2 separate regions of the Homo sapiens genome follow, and region 2 is linked to region 1. A link means that fine-mapping ties the variant in region 1 to the expression of a gene that starts in the linked region. Tissue or cell type: hippocampus. Region 1 holds a variant in brackets; the other region holds the start of a gene. All regions are shown on one strand. Distances are from middle to middle.

The links. PIP is the estimated chance that this variant, and not a neighbour inherited with it, causes the effect.
Region 2: PTPRS starts here. The variant in region 1 is fine-mapped to the expression of PTPRS in hippocampus (GTEx, PIP 0.97).

The regions. Positions count from the first base shown.
Region 1 is chr19:4,344,833-4,352,932 of GRCh38, reverse strand. MPND (MPN domain containing) reads right to left here. Exons shown (of 13, transcript NM_001300862.2): 3 at 6,952-7,188; 4 at 1-36. It also overlaps the pseudogene EIF1P6. Among named protein-coding and RNA genes, the nearest start is that of MPND, 5.3 kb to the right of the region's middle. RefSeq lists an enhancer at 2,124-2,625. The variant A/G (reference allele first, on the strand shown) is at 3,963.
Region 2 is chr19:5,336,927-5,345,026 of GRCh38, reverse strand. It overlaps PTPRS (protein tyrosine phosphatase receptor type S), which reads left to right and starts at 4,215. Exons shown (of 38, transcript NM_002850.4): 1 at 4,215-4,363. LOC105372252 (a long non-coding RNA gene) reads right to left here. Exons shown (of 5, transcript XR_936279.3): 3 at 8,072-8,100; 4 at 7,688-7,779; 5 at 6,961-7,570. RefSeq lists a silencer at 4,008-4,287 and an enhancer at 6,154-6,827.

The DNA.
Region 1 (8,100 bases):
CAGCAACTCCTCCTCCTCCCCTTCACTGGCTGGGCTCTGCAGGGGTTAGGGGTCAGGGACAGCGGTGGGACCCTCAGCTGGGTGCCCCCCCGCTCCCTGCTAAATCCCACCCCAGCCCTTTGGCCTAAGCCGTAAGTGCCATTGCCCCACATGACCACTAGAGGGAGGGAGGGAGCAGAGAAGGCCTTAAGCTAAGACCTCACATTTTTTTTTATTTATTTGTAATTTATTTTTTATTTATTTATTTTTGAGACGGAGTCTCTCTCTGTCGCCCAGTCTGGAGTGCAGTGGTGTGATTTCGGCTCACTGCAACTTCTGCCTCCTGGGTTCAAGTGACTCTCCTGCCTCAGCCTCCTGAGTAGCTGGGGTTACAGGCATGCACCACCACATCCAGCTAATTTTGTATTCTTAGTAGAGACGGGATTTCTCCATGTTGGTCAGGCTGGTCTCAAACTCCCGACCTCAGGTGATCCACCCACCTCGGCCTCCCAAAGTGCTGGGATTACAGGCGTAAGCCACCGCACCCGGCTCACCTCGCATTTTATAATACAAGCCCTGCGCAACCTTTGGTGAGCACCATTGCCATTTATGCCTAGGGTTCCATTATTGGAACGCTAAGCATATGGGAGCTATTTATATCCTACTGCTCAAAGTCATCGCCAAGGTCTGATTGCAAAAATTCAAAGAATTGCAACCTCAGGCATAAATGGGTTTAAACTCTCTGAACTCTATCTATTCTTTTATCTTTTTTTTTTTCTTTGAGACACGGTCTCACTCTGTCACCCAGGCTGGAGCGCAGTGGCACGATCTTGGCTCACTGCAACCTCTGCCTTCCGGGTTCAAGCCATTCTCTTGCCTCAGCCTCCTGAGTAGCTGGGAGTACAGTTGCCCACCACCATGCCTGGCTAATTTTTGTCTTTTTAGTATAGATGAGGTTTTGCCATGTTGGCCAGGCTGGTCTCAAACTCCTGACCTCAAGTGACCCACCTGCCTCAGCCTCCCAAAGTGTTGGCATTACAGGTGTGAGCCACCGTGCCCAGCCAACTCTATTCTTTTTTTTTTTTTTTTTTTGAGACAGAGTCTCACTCTGTCGCCGAGGCTGGAGTGCAGTGGCATGATCTCGGCTCACTACAACCTCCACCTCCCGGGTTCAAGTGATTTTCCTGCCTCAGCCTCCCGAGTAGCTGGGATTATAGGCATGTGCCACCACGCCCAGCTAATTTTTTGTATTTTTAGTAGAGATGGGGTTTCACCGTGTTAGCCAGGATGGTCTCGATCGTCTGACCTTGTGATTTGCCCATCTCGGCCACCCAAAGTGCTGGGATTAAAGGCGTGAGCCACCGTGCCCGGCCGCCAAGTCTATTCTTATCTGTAAAAGGGCACAATGACCTCCAACTCCACGGGGATGGCATCAGGGTGAAATGAAATCATACGCACAAAGCATTTAGCATACACCTAGATGCTCCGTTCATTGAGCGAGCCAGCACCATACATAGGTGGCTTTCACGTCTTTCAGTAACCTTTCCTCCCAGTCGGGCACAGTGGCCCACGCCTGCAATCCCAGCACTTTGGGAGGCTGAGGCGGTGGACCACTTGAGGTCAGGAGTTCGAGACCAGCCTGGCCAACATGGTGAAACCCCATCTCTACTAAAAATACAAAAATTAGCCAGGCATGGTGGCGAACACCTGCAATCCCAGCTACTCAGGAGGCTGAGGCAGGAGGATCACTTGAACCCGGGAGGCGGAGACTGCAGTGAACTGAGATCACACCATTGTACTACAGCCTGGGTGACGGAGCGAGACTCTGTCTACAAAAATACAAATTAAAAATAACCTCTCCTCCAGTTCTGTCCTAAACTGCCCTTGTGGAGGTGACCTCTCTGGGTCACATCTCACTTTCTGTCCTCGTCACCTTCTCGGCAGCATCTGACCCAGCACAGCCTCCTACCTACCAGGACACGGTCCTCACACAACCCCCGGATCCCACGCTCGCCTGGCTCCCTCTCACCTCCCCTCTCGCTGTTGCTGGCCCCAGGCTGGGTTTTCAGGCCTCCTCCCTCCACACCCCTCCCAGGTGGCCTCATCCCCTCTCAGGGCTCCAAATCCTGTCTACACCTGACACTGCCCACAGTCCTGTCTCCAGCCCAAGCCTCGCCCGGCTCCAGACTCAGGGCCCAGCTGCCTCTCTATGTCTCCATGTGGGGGACTCACAGGGTCACACTCAACACAGCCATGCTGGGCCCCACTGAACCCCCAGATCTGCCCTTCCCACATCCCCCAATTTTGGCAGCTCGATCCACCCACTTGCTCAGGACTCCAGCATCTGATCTATCAGCAAATCTGGCGGATACACTTCCAAAAATACCTGGAACCTGCCCACTTCTTCCCTGCTCCATGGTCGGCCTGGGCCACTCCATCATCCCTCACCTGGACCAGCTCACTCACCTCTGCCCTGGTCCCTGGATCCCACCCTAACCCCCGACAGTCTAGTCCCCACAGCAGCCACCAGAGAACGCCTGTGAGCACCTCAGTCAGATCCTGTCCTTCCTCTGCCTGCAACACTCCATGGCTCCCACCTTCCTCCCGGTCAAAGCCCAAGTTCTCCCCATAACCTACAGAGCCCTGCATGACCTGCCCTGTCCCCTTCCCATCCTCCCCACCTCCTTCTCTCTCCCTTACTCACTCGGCTCCAGCCACACAGGCTCCTCGCTGTTCCTCCAACACACCAGGCACGGTCGTGCCCCAGGGCCTTTGCAGAGGCTGTTTCTCAGAAGTCCTCATGGCACCCTCCCTCCCTCCCCACCTTCAGTTCTCCGTTCAAATGTCACCTTCTCAGTGAAGCCCCCCCAACCACCTTCTTCCCCCACAACTCCCACCCAAAGGCAGGGATTTTTGACTTTTTTTGCCCTCTGCTTTATATTCAGTGCCTAAAACAGGCCTTGCACACAGTTGGCCACTAACTGAATACATACTGAAAGAATGGTTTCCTGTGTCATCTTAGCTAGGCAAGAGTGCCTGGTAATTTAATGGAACACTGATCTAGGCATTACTGCGATGGCATTTGTTACATGTGATTCATATCTACAGTAAGGTGACTTTCAGAAAGGACATTGCTCTTGACCAGGCTCCATGGCTGGCTCACGCCTGCAATCCCAGCACTTTGGGAGGCAGAGGTGGGCGGATCACCTGAGGTCAGGAGTTCAAGACTAGCCTGGCCAACATGGTGAAACCCCATCTCTACTAAAAATACAAAAATTAACTGGGCATGGTAGTGGGCATCTGTAGTCCCAGCTACTCAGGAGGCTGAGGCAGGAGAATCGCCTGAACCCAAGAGGCGGAGGTTGCAGTGAGCCAAGATCACGCCATTGCGCTCCAGCCTGGGCAACAAGAGCGACACTCCATCTCAAAAAAAAAAAATAGACCCACTCACTGAGCCACTGAGGACTCGGCAGCCTCCCGTTGAGCACCCTCACTTCCTGACGCTCCATCCCTCCCACTCGCCTTCTCCCGCCACCACTGCTTTCCACAGGCAGTTCCCACCAAGGCAAAGGAATCGTGACTGGCTGCGGTGGCTCATGCCTGTAATCCCTGCACTTTGGGATACCGAAGCGAGTGGATCACTTGAGGTCAGGAGTTCGAGACCAGCCTGACCAACATGGTGAAACCGCATCTCTAATAAACATGCAAAAATACAAAAATCAGCTGAGCTTGGTGGCGCGCCCTTGTAGTCCCAGCTACTCTGGAGGCTGACGCAGAAGAATTGCGTGAACCCGGGAACGGGAGGTTGCAGTGAGCCAAGATCACAGCACTGCACTCCAGCCTGGACAACAGAGCGAGACTCCATCTCAAAAACAGAATTATATCTTTTGTCCACTATCCAGAACCTCCACTCTTTCAACCCCTCTGCTGATGCAAGTAACAGTGATGACCTGCTTCCTGCTGGCACTGAGGACTGTATCCAT[A/G]TAAGAATTCAACAGAGGCCGGGCATGGTGGCTCACGCCTATAATCCCAGCACTTTGGGAGGCTGAGGCAGGTAGATCACGAGGTCAGGAGTTCAAGACCAGCCTGGCCAAAATGGTGAAACCCCGTCTCCACTAAAAATAAAAAAATTAGCCAGGCCTGGTGGTGGGCGCCTATAATTCCAGCTACTTGGAGGCTGAGGTAGGAGAATGGCTTGAATCCGGGAGGCAGAGTTTGCAGTGAGCCAAGATTGCACCACTGCATTCCAGCCTGGGCGACACAGTGAGACTCCATCTCAAAAAAAAAAAAGAATTCAACAGAAAAATGGCAGGAAAACGCTTACTGCTGTCCTGCAAGAGATCAGTGATGATTACGATAAAAAGAAACTAGTGAAGGTGTTTAAGAAGAAATTTAGGCCGGGCGCGATGGCTCACGCCTATAATCTCAGCACTTTGGGAGGCCGATGGGGGTGGATCACGAGGTCAGGAGTTTGAGAACAGCCGGACCAACATGGTGAAACCCCATTTCTACTAAAAATACAAAAATTAGCCGGGTGTGGTGGTGTGTGCCTGTAATCCCAGCTACTCAAGAGGCTCAGGCAGGAGAATCGCTTGAACCTGGGAGGCAGAGGTTGCAGTGAGCCTAGATTGTGCCACTGAGCTCCAGCCTGGGCGACAGAGCGAGACTCCGTCTCAAAAAAAAAAAAAAAAAAAAAAAAGAAATTTGCAATTTGCCTGCCTGCAATGATACTGTAATTGAGCATCCAGAATATGGATAAGTCAGCTGGGCTTGGTGGCTCACGCCTGTAATCCCAGCATTTTGGGAGGCGGAGGCGGGCGGATCACCTGATGTCAGGAGTTCGAGACCAGCCTGGCCAACGTGGTGAAACCCCGTCTCTACTAAAAATATAAAAATTAGCCGGGTGTGGTGGTGGGCGCCTGTAATCCCAGCTACTCGCGAGACTGAGGCAGGAGAATCATTTGAACCCGGGAGGCAGAGGTTGCAATGAGCAGAGATCGTGGCATTGCATTCCAGCCTGGGAGACACAGCGAGAGTCTGTCTCAAAAAAAAAAAACAAAAAAAAACACAATATGGAGAAGTAATTCAGCTACAGAGTGACCAGTGCAAGAACATTTGCCAGTTCCTTGTAGACACTGGACTGACTAAGGAGGATCATGTGAAGGGTCAAGGGTTTTTTTGCCACTGCGTCGGGCAGGTTCATGGGTTTTAAGTGCTTGTGGCTCACTGAAGCTTAAGTGAGGATTTCCTTGCAATGAGTAGAATTTCCTTTCTGTCCTTTGTCACAAGTTTAAAAACCTCACAGCTTGTATAACGTAACCATTTGTGGTCTGCTTTTAACATGGACTAGTGTTAACTCCTTCATGCAATAAACTTCGTACATAAAAAAAAGTTTATGAAAACATATCTACAGGCAGCTGGGCGCGGTGGCTCACACTTGTAATCCCAGCACTTTGGGAGGCCGAGGTGGGTGGATCACGAGGTCAGGAGATCGAGATCATCCTGGCTAACACGGTGAAACCCCGTCTCTACTAAAAATACAAAAATTATCCGGGCGTGGTGGTGGGTGCCTGTAGTCCCAGCTACTCGGGAGGCTGAGGCAGGAGAATGGCATGAACCCGGGAGGCAGAGCTTGCAGTGAGCTGAGATCGTGCCACTGTACTCCAGCCTGGGCGACAGAGCAAGACTCCGTCTTGAAAAAAAAAAAAAACATATCTACGAAAAGAAGAAAGGACATTACTCTTGATACTACAGGTGGGCCTCATCCAATCAGTTGAAGGCGATAACAGCAAAAACAGAAAAAAAAAAAAGATTCTGCCACAAGACTACAGCATCTGCTCCTGCCTCAGTTTCCTGCCTGCCCTACAGATTCCACACATGGGCACTGGTACCATCTCCATTTTGGGGTTTTGTTGTTGTTGTTTTGAAATGGAGTCTCAATCTGTTGCCAGGCTGGAATGCAGTGGTGTGATCTCAGCTCACTGCAACCTCCGCCTTGCAGGTTCAAGTGATTCTCCTGCCTCAGCCTCCCGAGTAGCTGGGACTACAGGCGTGCACCACCACGCCTGGCTAATTTTTGTCTTTTTAGTAGAGACGGGGTTTCACCATGTTGGCCAGGCTGGTCTGGATCTCTTGACCTCGTGAACCTGCCTGCTTCAGCCTCCCAAAATGCTGGGATTACAGGCATGAGCCACTGTGCCTGGCCTACCATCTCCATTTCACATAAGAAAAAAAAAACGGCCAGTGCAGTAGCTCACGCCCGCAATCCCAACACTTTGGGAAGTCCAGGTGGGAGGATTGCTGGAGGCCAGGAGTTTGAGACCAGCCTAGGCAACATGGTGAAACCTCATCTCTTCTAAAAATCCAAAAATTAGCCGGGTGTGGTGGCATGCGTCTGTAGTCCAGCTACTAGGGAGGCTGAGGTGGGAGGATCGCTTGAACCCAGGAGGTGAAGGCTGTAGTGAGCCAAGATGGGGGCACTGCACTCCAGCCTGGGCCACAGAGTGAGACCCTGTCTCAAAAAAAAAGAAAAAAACTAAGGCACACAAAGGGTCCTTGGTCAAGTTCACCCGGCTGGTGAACACTCAGGGAACATCTATTATCATAGCATTTGAAGTTCCCCCAGTGCCCCTCTGGTCCCTGCCATCATTTCCAGCCCCCTCAGCCACCCATGACACCAGCAGGTCTTTCTTCTTGTCTACATGACTTTGCGTATGCCATTCCATCCTTCTAGAAAGCTCTTCCCTTCAACTTGCTCTGACAAACTCCTGCTCATCCCTCAAAGCCCAAGCTCCCATGTCCCCTCTCTCCGCCCCAGCCCTGGAGGGATGGAGGAGGCATGTCACGTGGTAAGGGCTCCATCCGTGTTTGTATATATTACTAATACCTCCTCCGGAGAGAGCTGTGCCAGGCTGGGCACCCCTCATTCCACAGTGACCTGGGCGGCTTCCTGGAGGAGGCTGCAGCACGTACCTCATCAGCAGCCGTGGCAGGCGTGTGCAGCTGGTGCAGCCGGAGCCAGGTGGCCTTGTACTTGTCCAGTTTCTGGCCTTTGTACTTGACAGAGGCCCAGCCACAGCCCGACTTCTTGGCAGGGTTCACCAGCTTCTTGCAGTGGGTGGCCCAGGCGCTGGGTGAGTTGAAGGTCTGCCCGGTCTCCTGCCACATGATCCTTCCGTCTGGCTGCAGGTCGCCCAGGAACTTCTTCCCCTGCAGTGACAGTCAGCTGGCTGGGCCCAGGACCAACACCCACCATGCCCTCTCTCCCGGGGGGTCCTCCCCAGACCTACGCTCCCTCAGGCATGTCTTTACAGGGCTTCCAGGAACACCTCTCAGGCCGGCTGCAGGGCCTCCTCAGTGCCTGGGAGTCCACACCCACAAACCTGATCAGCCTGCACCAAGCTGCCTGGCAGATATCTGCACCCCGCCCACCATGACCAAGAAACCCCTAAGATCGGGGATAGGGTCTGTCTGTCTTGATCACTGCTGTGTCTCCAGGATGCAACACTCAGCAGTTGCTCCATTCAGAAACTCCCATTCAGAAGGGGAATAATGTGCTACCATTCACAAATCAAACAATAATGACAACAGTAATAGTAATAATACAGGGCTGGGTGCAGTGGTTCACGCCTGTAATCCCAGCACTTTGGGAGGCTGAGGCGGGCGGATCACCTGAGGTCAGGAGTTTGAGACCAGCCTGGCCAACATGGTGAAACCCCATCTCTACTAAAAATATAAAAATTAGCCAGGCGTGGTGGCGGGTGCCTGTAATCCCAGCTACTCAAGAGGCTAAGGCAGGAGAATTGCTTGAACCGGGAGGCAGAGGTTGCAGTGAGCCGAGATCATGCTACTGCATTCCAGCCTGGGCAACAGCGCGAGACTCTGTCTCAAAAAAAAAAAAAAAAAAAAAAAAAGGCCGGGCATGGTGGCTCACGCCTATAATCCCAGCACTTTGGGAGCTGAGGCAGGCGGACCACGAGGTCAGGAGTTCAAGACCAGCCTGGCCAATATAGTGAAACCCCGTCTCTACTAAAACTGCAAAAAAAAAAAATTAGCCAGGCGTGGTGGCGCATACCTGTAGTCCCAGCTACTCGGGAGGCTGAGGCAGAAAATCGCTTGAAC
Region 2 (8,100 bases), 990 kb before region 1:
CCTCAGCCTCCCGAGTAGCTGGGACTACAGGCACCTGCCACCTCGCCCGCTAATTTTTTGTATTTTTAGTAGAGATGGGGTTTCACCATGTTAGCTAGGATGGTCTCGATCTCCTGACCTCCTGATCCGCCCGCCTCGGCCTCCCAAAGTGCTGGGATTATAGGCGTGAGCCACCACGCCCGGCAGGGACCACGATTATTATTATCCCCATTTACAGACAGGCAAACTGAGGCACAGCTAGAGTAGGGAGACACGCAGGAAACACACAAACCGGCCAAAATATAAAATCATTCCAAATCATGATAAATAATCTGATACTGAAGTAAAGATGATCATGTGGTCACCTCAGTGAGATGGTCTGGGAGGGTCTCCCAGAGACTCGAAGAGCAAGGAGGAACAATTGGCCTTGAGAAAAGCAGGAGGAACAGCATCCTGGTCAGAGGGAACAGACAGTGCAAAGGCTCTGTGGCAGGACCTTACCTGGTGTGTTGGAGGCACAGCAAGGAGGCCCGAGTGGCGGGAGCAGAGTGAGCGAGGGTGACAGAGGGCGGGGAAGGGGGTAGGTTATGCAGAGCTTGGTGAGCTGTGGGAAGAGCTTAAGCTTTTACTCTAAATAAGATATTTCCTATCTCCTCCCAGCACTGTTGACTCCAGGAATTTTTGCTCTGTTGCCCAGGCTGGAGTGCAGTGGCGTGCTTAGAGTTCACTGCAGCCTCAAACTCTCACATCCAAGCGATCCTCCTACCTCAACCTCCCAGGTAGCTGGGATCACAGATGTGTACCACCATGCCCAGCTAACTTCTAAAACTTTTTGTAAAGACGGGGTCTCCCTATGTTGCCCAGGCTAGTCCCAAATACCTGGGCTCAAGCCATCCTCCCGCCTCAGCCTCCTAAAGTGCTGGGCCAAAGTGCCTGGCCAACTCCAGGGATTTTAAAGACTGTTTTGTTTACTTCTGTTGTCCACAGCACTTCAAACAACCTGGGAGCGGGGCCGGATGCATGGCCTGAACAGATGGGTTTCCCAAGCACATGCTGGAATGTATTTTTTTTTTTTTTTGAGACAAAGTCTCACTCTGTTGCCAGGCTGGAGTGCAGTGGCGCTCAGCTCACTTACAACATCTGCCTCCCGGGTAGAAGCGATTCTCCTGCCTTCTGAGTAACTGGGACTACAGGCACGCGCCACCACGCCCAGCTAATTTCTGTATTTTTAGTAGAGATGGGGTTTCACCATGTTAGCCAGGCTGGTCTCAAACTCCTGAGCTCAGGCAATCCACCTGCCTTGGCTTCCCAAAGTGCTGGGATTACAGGCGTGAGCCACCGCACCTGGCCAACGTATTTTTTGTTTGAGAGGGAGTCTCACTCTGTTGCCCAGCTGGAGTGCAGTGGTGTGATCTCAGCTCACTGCAACCTCTGCCTCCCAGGTTCAAGCAATTCTCCTGCCTCAGCCTCATGAGTAGCTGGGACTACAGGCATGCACCATCACACCTGGCTAATTTTTGTATTTTTAGCAGAGACAGGGTTTTGCCATGTTGGCCAGGCTGGTCTCGAACTCCTGACCTCAGGTGATCCACCCGCCCTGGCCTCTCAAAGTGCTGGGATTACTGGCATGAGCCACCGCGCCCAGCTGCTACAATGTATTTTAATTCTGTTTTTGATGTATTTAATCTGTTTTCTTTGACTGCTCACAAAATCCCTCAGAGGTACTAGTGGTTGTCCCCCTTTTCTAGATGGGGACAGCTAGGCTTACAGTGTTGCGGCCACTTGTTTGAGGTCACCTCCCAAACAGGTCACTGGGCTGGGGTTCGTGCCATGATCAGCCCCTCCACGATCAGCCATCTCATTTTACTGTGTCTCCACCAATTCTCCAAGGCTTCAGCACCCACTGTGCGTGAGAAACCACGCTAAGCATTTGTGCACAGACCACCCCATTTGATCCTTCAAGATGGGATCGTGTTCCCATTGCTTGGATGAGAAAACTGAGGCCAGATTGTAAACGGTCAGATCAGGGTCACCCCACCAGGAAGAAAAACAAAGTAGGCTCTGCAAACGTGGCTGCTGCACTGGCCGCTGGGAAACTCCAAGCTTAAATTAGGTTCCTTGTTAAATTATTCATTATCTCCTCTCTTTTCTCCTGTTTATGACTTCCGCCTTATCGTTTTGTTCCCCGGGTTAATGCTTTTTGTTTATCTGCATCTGTGGCCTGGAATGAATGAATCAACAATTTTGGAGGAAAAAAAAAACCAATTCTAAAGTTGAGTTCCTCTGTTGGGCACCAGGCCTTCTCCAAATATGTGCCTTGAGGAAATAAATGCTTTCGACATGATCAAAACACAAGGACTGATGTGCAATCTTGCTTGGTGGCTGTGAGCCCTCCAACCCCCTTACCTTTGTCAATATCCCCCTTTTATTTACTTCCGCTCTGTTTTTTTTCCTTATTTTTGAGAGTCTCACTCTGTCGCCCAGGCTAGAGTGTGCAGTGGTGTGATATTGGTTCACTGCAACCTCCGCCTCCCGGGTTCAAGAGTTTCTCCTGCCTCAGCCTCCCAACTAGCTGAGACTACAGGCACCTGCCACCACGCTCGGCTAATTTTTGTATTTTTAGTAGAGATGGGGTTTCGCCATGTCGGCCAGCCTGGTCTCGAACTCCTGACAAGTGATCTGCCCACCTTGGCTTCCCAAAGTGCTGGGATTACAGGCATGAGTCACCGGGCCCGGCCTCTTTTCTCTTATTATTCCATCTTCAGGCACCAATGGCAGCCAGGCTGCCACATTATAGCAATTCATCATCACACCCTCCTTAGGAGCAGGGGCTACCTTGCCCCATTTTACAGATGAGAGCTGAGATCCAGAGGCAAATCCATTCTACAGATGGGGAAAGTGAGGCTCCGGGCCTCACACAGCAAATCAGTGTTTTAGCTGGGTTCCAACTGTGGCTCGTCCTGACTCCAGGGAAGCAGGGGATGGTAATTAGGTGAGACCTGTGTAAAGTGCTTACTCTATAAGAAGTGCTCCATCATCCATTCATTCATGTGTTCAACCTACAATAGGGATCTCTGGAGCCACACTGTAGTGTAACTAGAATAAAAACGGGATAATGGGACCAGGCGCGGTGGCTCACGCCTGTAATCCCAGCACTTTGGGAGGCCGAGGTGGACGGATCACTGAGGTCAGGAGTTCAAGACCAGCCTGGCCAACATGGTGAAACACTGTCTCTAACAAAAATACAAAAATTAGCCAGGCGTGGTGACAGCACGCCTGTAATTCCAGCTACTCCGGAGGCTGAGACAGGAGAATAGCTTGAATCCAGGAGGCGGAGGTTACAGTGAGCCGCGATCACGCCACTGCATTCCAGCCTGGGCGACAGAGTGAGACTCCGACTCAAAACCAAACAAACAACAACAACAACAACAAACCGGGATAATGGGATAGAGTGGAGTGGGGCGTGGCTGGTAGCTGTTGTCAGGGAGGGCTTCTCCCAGGCGCTGCTTATTTGAGCAGAAATTGGAAAGATGAGAAGGGGAAGTTCTTGGATGCTCAAGTTAGAGGAACTGTAAGAAGCTGGCTGAGGCGGGAGGATCACCCGAGCCCAACTACTCAGGAGGCTGAGGCGGGAGGATCACCTGAGCCCAGGAGTTTGAAGCTGCAGTGAGCTATGATCATACCACTGTACTGAGGCCCAGGTGGCAGACCCCATCTCTGAAAAAGCAAAGAAGGAGCAGCTGGTTTTTCTGGATCATTGACATGGTGGGGGGGAGGGGACAGGGTAGTGGGCGCTAATGTGAAACGGCGAGCTGCAGAGAGGAGGCGGGATTTTATTCCAAGGGTACTGGGGAGCCGTGGCACAGTTTAGGGCAGCGCACAGAAAGTGCCATGCCCTTTGCACCCAGGACGCTGGGGCTCCCGCACGGACAGTAGCCCCAGGGGCCCTTCCCGCCGCCGCCGCAGCCGCCACCACCACCACCACCCCAGCCGCCCACGTGTCCCGCGAAGCCCCGCGCCCCACGTGCTCCCGCGGCCCTTTAAACACCCCGGAGCCACGTGACCGCGCTGCGCCGTCCCATTGGCCGGGGGGCGTGGCGGCCGCGCGGCTGCGCAGTGACGCGCACGGGCCGGCCCTGCCCCCGACCCGGCGGCGGCGGCGGCGGCGCTGGCGGAAGGGATGACGTCACCGGCTGGGGGGGCGCGCGAGCGGGAGCTAGGGGAGCGCGAGCCGCAGTGAGTGTCCTCGCGCCGCCCGCCCGGCAGCCCGGCCGGCGCGCGCACGCCGCGAGCCGCTGGCGCTCGGGCTCCGCTCGGATCCCATGCAACAGCCACGATGTGAAGCGGGGCAGAGCCGGGGGAGCCCAGCCCAGCCAGCCTCCAGGTAAAGCCAAAAAAAAAAATAAAATCATGGATTAGAGGAAAAAAAAATGCAGGCGCTCCAAGGGGGGTCTCGGAGGCAGCCGAGTGGGCAGCGCGCCGGCTTTGTGCCGGGGAAGCCTGCACGGCCATTGTGCTCGGAGGATGCTCGGCTGCAGCCAGTTGCACGCCCAGCCGCTGCGCCCCGGTAGCTGCGCCCGGACAATGCCCCGAGGGACAGGGCCGGGGCCGCGCTGGGGGCGCTCGGCAGGGGGTGCTGGGGGGGCTTCGTCCGCGGCGTGGGAGGGGGCTGGGCTGGAAGCGCCCAGAGCGCGGCATTGGAAGCTGCCCAGCGCCGCCGGCTGCACCACCCCGGGCTGCGGGCGGGGCAGAGGCGCGGAGGGGGGCGCGCGTGTGTGCGGAGCCGGTGCCGGCCCCGGCGGCGCCCGGCCCGGGTCCCCGGGCGGGTCCTGGAGGCAGGGGGCGCTGTGCCGGGGGATGGGGGGCATGCGGGCGCCCCGGAGCGGAGAGGAGCCGGGACGGGTGGCTCCAGGCGGGGTGGCTCCAGGGCTGCTGCGCCCGCCGCCTTCCCTCTCCGGGTCTCCCTCCCCTGGAGACCCCCTAGTCTACGCCGTCTCCCCTGGAACACTCCGGGCCCTGTCGTTGCCTTATGGGAGGTCGCCCCTCCGGCACTCGGGCATTGCCCCACCCTTCTGCGGCCTCGGCGCCCCCTTCCAGCCTCCCCACCCAGGGGCGAGCCTCAGCCCCCAGCCCCAGGGGCTCTGGCAGGCAGACGCGCACGCCCAGCACCCCAGTCTCCCCTCCGCGCTGGGGGCCCCGTGGGGATCCCGAGAGTGGGGAAGCCGCCCCTGGAACCGCCAGCCCCGCGGGTTCCGCACGCCCCGGGAGCCCCCGGGGGCTGCGGGGGGAGGGGAGGTGACGTCATACCGGGGGCGGGGCCGTCGGCACTGGGTTAAAGGGGGCGCGGGGCGTGCCCTGAGGGGAGCCCCCCAGGTTAGAGTGCCCGCGCCGTGGGTGCGAGGGTTCGGCCAGGTTGCGGCCAAGTTCACCTCTCTTTATGGGAATCTCTCCTAAAATTAAGATCCTCCCCTTCGGACCTCCCCCTACAAATCCTGGACATTTCCCACCAATTCCCCCCCTTCCCAAATTGGGGAACTCCCCTTCGGCCGCTTTCTCTCCAGAATCCTCAAATCAGGGAACCTTTCCCACAAACTGGGAATCTTTTTTTCAGCCACACCCCCCGCCCCAAATCTGGGACCTCCTTCTTCGGTTGACCCTCTTTCCCCAGTCTCAAATCGTCTTCTCGTCTCCCTAAATATGCAGCTTCCAAGAACGCCCCTTCCTCTGCAACCCTTCCTCAAATCCAGCCACCTCCTGGGACCTCATTCCCCCAAATTAACAAACCTCCCAGAGCCTCATTGGGGGTGCCTTGCCTCCCCCTTCTGGGCTCAGCTGGGATTCCCCTGTCCCCCCCCGTCACAATCTAGGGGAGCCCCCTTCTGAGCATGGGGTCCTCCTGCCTCTGGCCGAGACCCTAAAAACACATCCCGGCAGCCGCGGCTAGTGAAGCGGGTGTCCGAGGTGTCGGAGTCCCGGCTGAGCAGCAGGGATGATACCTAGAAGCCGGAGGAGGCAGGAAGAGACCCCTAGGGTCCCAAGGACAGGGACCCACACGCTCCGGGCTCCCGTCCGCCACCACCCGGACTTTGGCTGCTGGGATTCTGGCCTCCTCTGGGTGGCCCCCTATCGCTGCTGTCCTTGGGGTGCAGAGGGTGACGGCGCCTCTTTGTCTGGGGCGCCCTTCTTCCCTCTTTCTGCCGCCTTTCGCCCGGGAGAAGGAAGCCATCCCGCTCCTCTGCTCCTGCGATACCAGCGGCAGCTGCTGGAGCGTTTATTAATGGCCCAGGGACTTGGTCGAATCTGCCATTTGCATAAGTCCCCTCCCCCTCCCAGGGTCCCTTCCTTTGTGCCCCCCTCCCCCTGCCAATCGCGCCTGCCTTCTGTCCCTCTGCTCTTCTTTCTTTGCCAGCTGATATTTTGGCGGTGGAAGGCAGGCAGCTGGGGCTGGGGGCGGCTGCTTCCCGCCCTCAAATCCCACAGCCCCCCAGCTTGGGCCTGACTGAGTCCCCACCTGGGCATCCCTCCCCTACCCCCCCGCTGCCCTCCACAAAGCCTTCCGTGGGGCATCTCTTTCTGGCTGGCAGGCTGGCGGAGTCTTCATTATTTCCCTCCGGGAAGCAGGGTCCTGCCCTGTTCCCCAGGCCCGGGGGACACCCTCATCATGACGGTGCACTTCTGCATGGGGGCTAGGCCTCCCAGCCCCCTGGGGGCCACCGCCCGCCATACTCCATCATCCTGAGAGTTGTTCTAATTGGGCTCAGGCAAACAAAACGTCGCAGGAGACCCAGGCTGCCTGGTGAGCTCACGCACTTTTCTATTTCTGCCACCCTGGCCGATGACATTGCCCCTAACCCCCCAGGGGGTGACAGAGACTGGTACTGTCAGTGGCCGTCCAGAGATGCCGTCCCAAGAGGCGGTGGACTGGCCCGCTCCCCACTCCCCGCGGGAGATGGGTGACAGGTCATTTTGGCGTGGCCCGGCTGAGGCGCTGGAGGGTGCTACTGGTTGGCAGGTCAGCTCCGGGGACGATTTCCCCCTCTCCAGGAAACCTTGAGAGCCTCTGAAGTCTGCGTGAGGTGGCGACAGAGAAGGGGACATTCAAACCCCAGGTTCCTGCCTGCTGCCAGCAGAGAAAAAAAAATCACTCCTTATACCCCGGTTGAGCGTTCAGTGCGCCTTTTTTCCCTGCCTCCCAGGGGATTTCAGGCATCGTCCAGTGTCCATGGACCCTGCTTGGAGACACAAGTCCATTTTCCCCCAATTTCCACCATGGAACAGGGGGAAGCTTCGTGGATGCCAGGGATTTCGTGGTAGCATCTGGGTGGGGAGACCTGGAGCCATCACTGTGCACCCATTTTTTTCTTCTTTGGGTCGCATAGAGCCTGGGGCTCTGCCTGGGTTTCCCCAGACCTGGTACCAGTCTGGAGGCAAATCTATCTCTGCTCATCAAACGTCTTTCTGGGAGGTGACTTGGTTTCCCCTTCTGCCTTCGGGGTTGGCGTTGAACAGCGGTTCACAGATGTCTGAGGGCAGCGCACACCTCCACTTGCCAAGATGGGGAGACCTGTGGCTTCGCTGATTATTCCAGCGGCTGCATGGCCCCAATACAATAGTTAGTGGGATGGCCGGAGAGGGACGGGCAGGGACGGTGTGACTTGGTGGTGCGACGTGGCATTTCTACCCGAGCGCCCCGTGGCCCCGCGTTCACCTGCTTTCTGTGACGGTGCAGCCGCCGTGTGCGTGGGGGAAGAAGCGGGGCGTGGAGAGAGTTCGGGATGGGGGCGAGCGGGAGGGAAAACCCTAAAAATAAAAAGGGATATTTATAAACCCAGCGGGTTTGGGGGATAATTGACAAAGCTTAATGTTTTTCGGCTGAGAGCAATTCCTTCCCCCTGCTACCCATTAAGCTCCATTTGCAGAGTCGGTCGGAGCCACGGGAAGATCTTGAGATGAGCTTTAGGTTTGGCGGGCGCAGTGCTGACCGCTGTAGCCCCCTTCTGGGAGGGTCTCGTACTTTCTGGAAGGAGACAGGGGTCCCAGAAAGGGGCACTCCCCAGCTCTCCTCTGCATCCAGGGTAGGCTCCTGGCTCACCTTCCAATGGGTGGGTGTCCTCTTAGAAT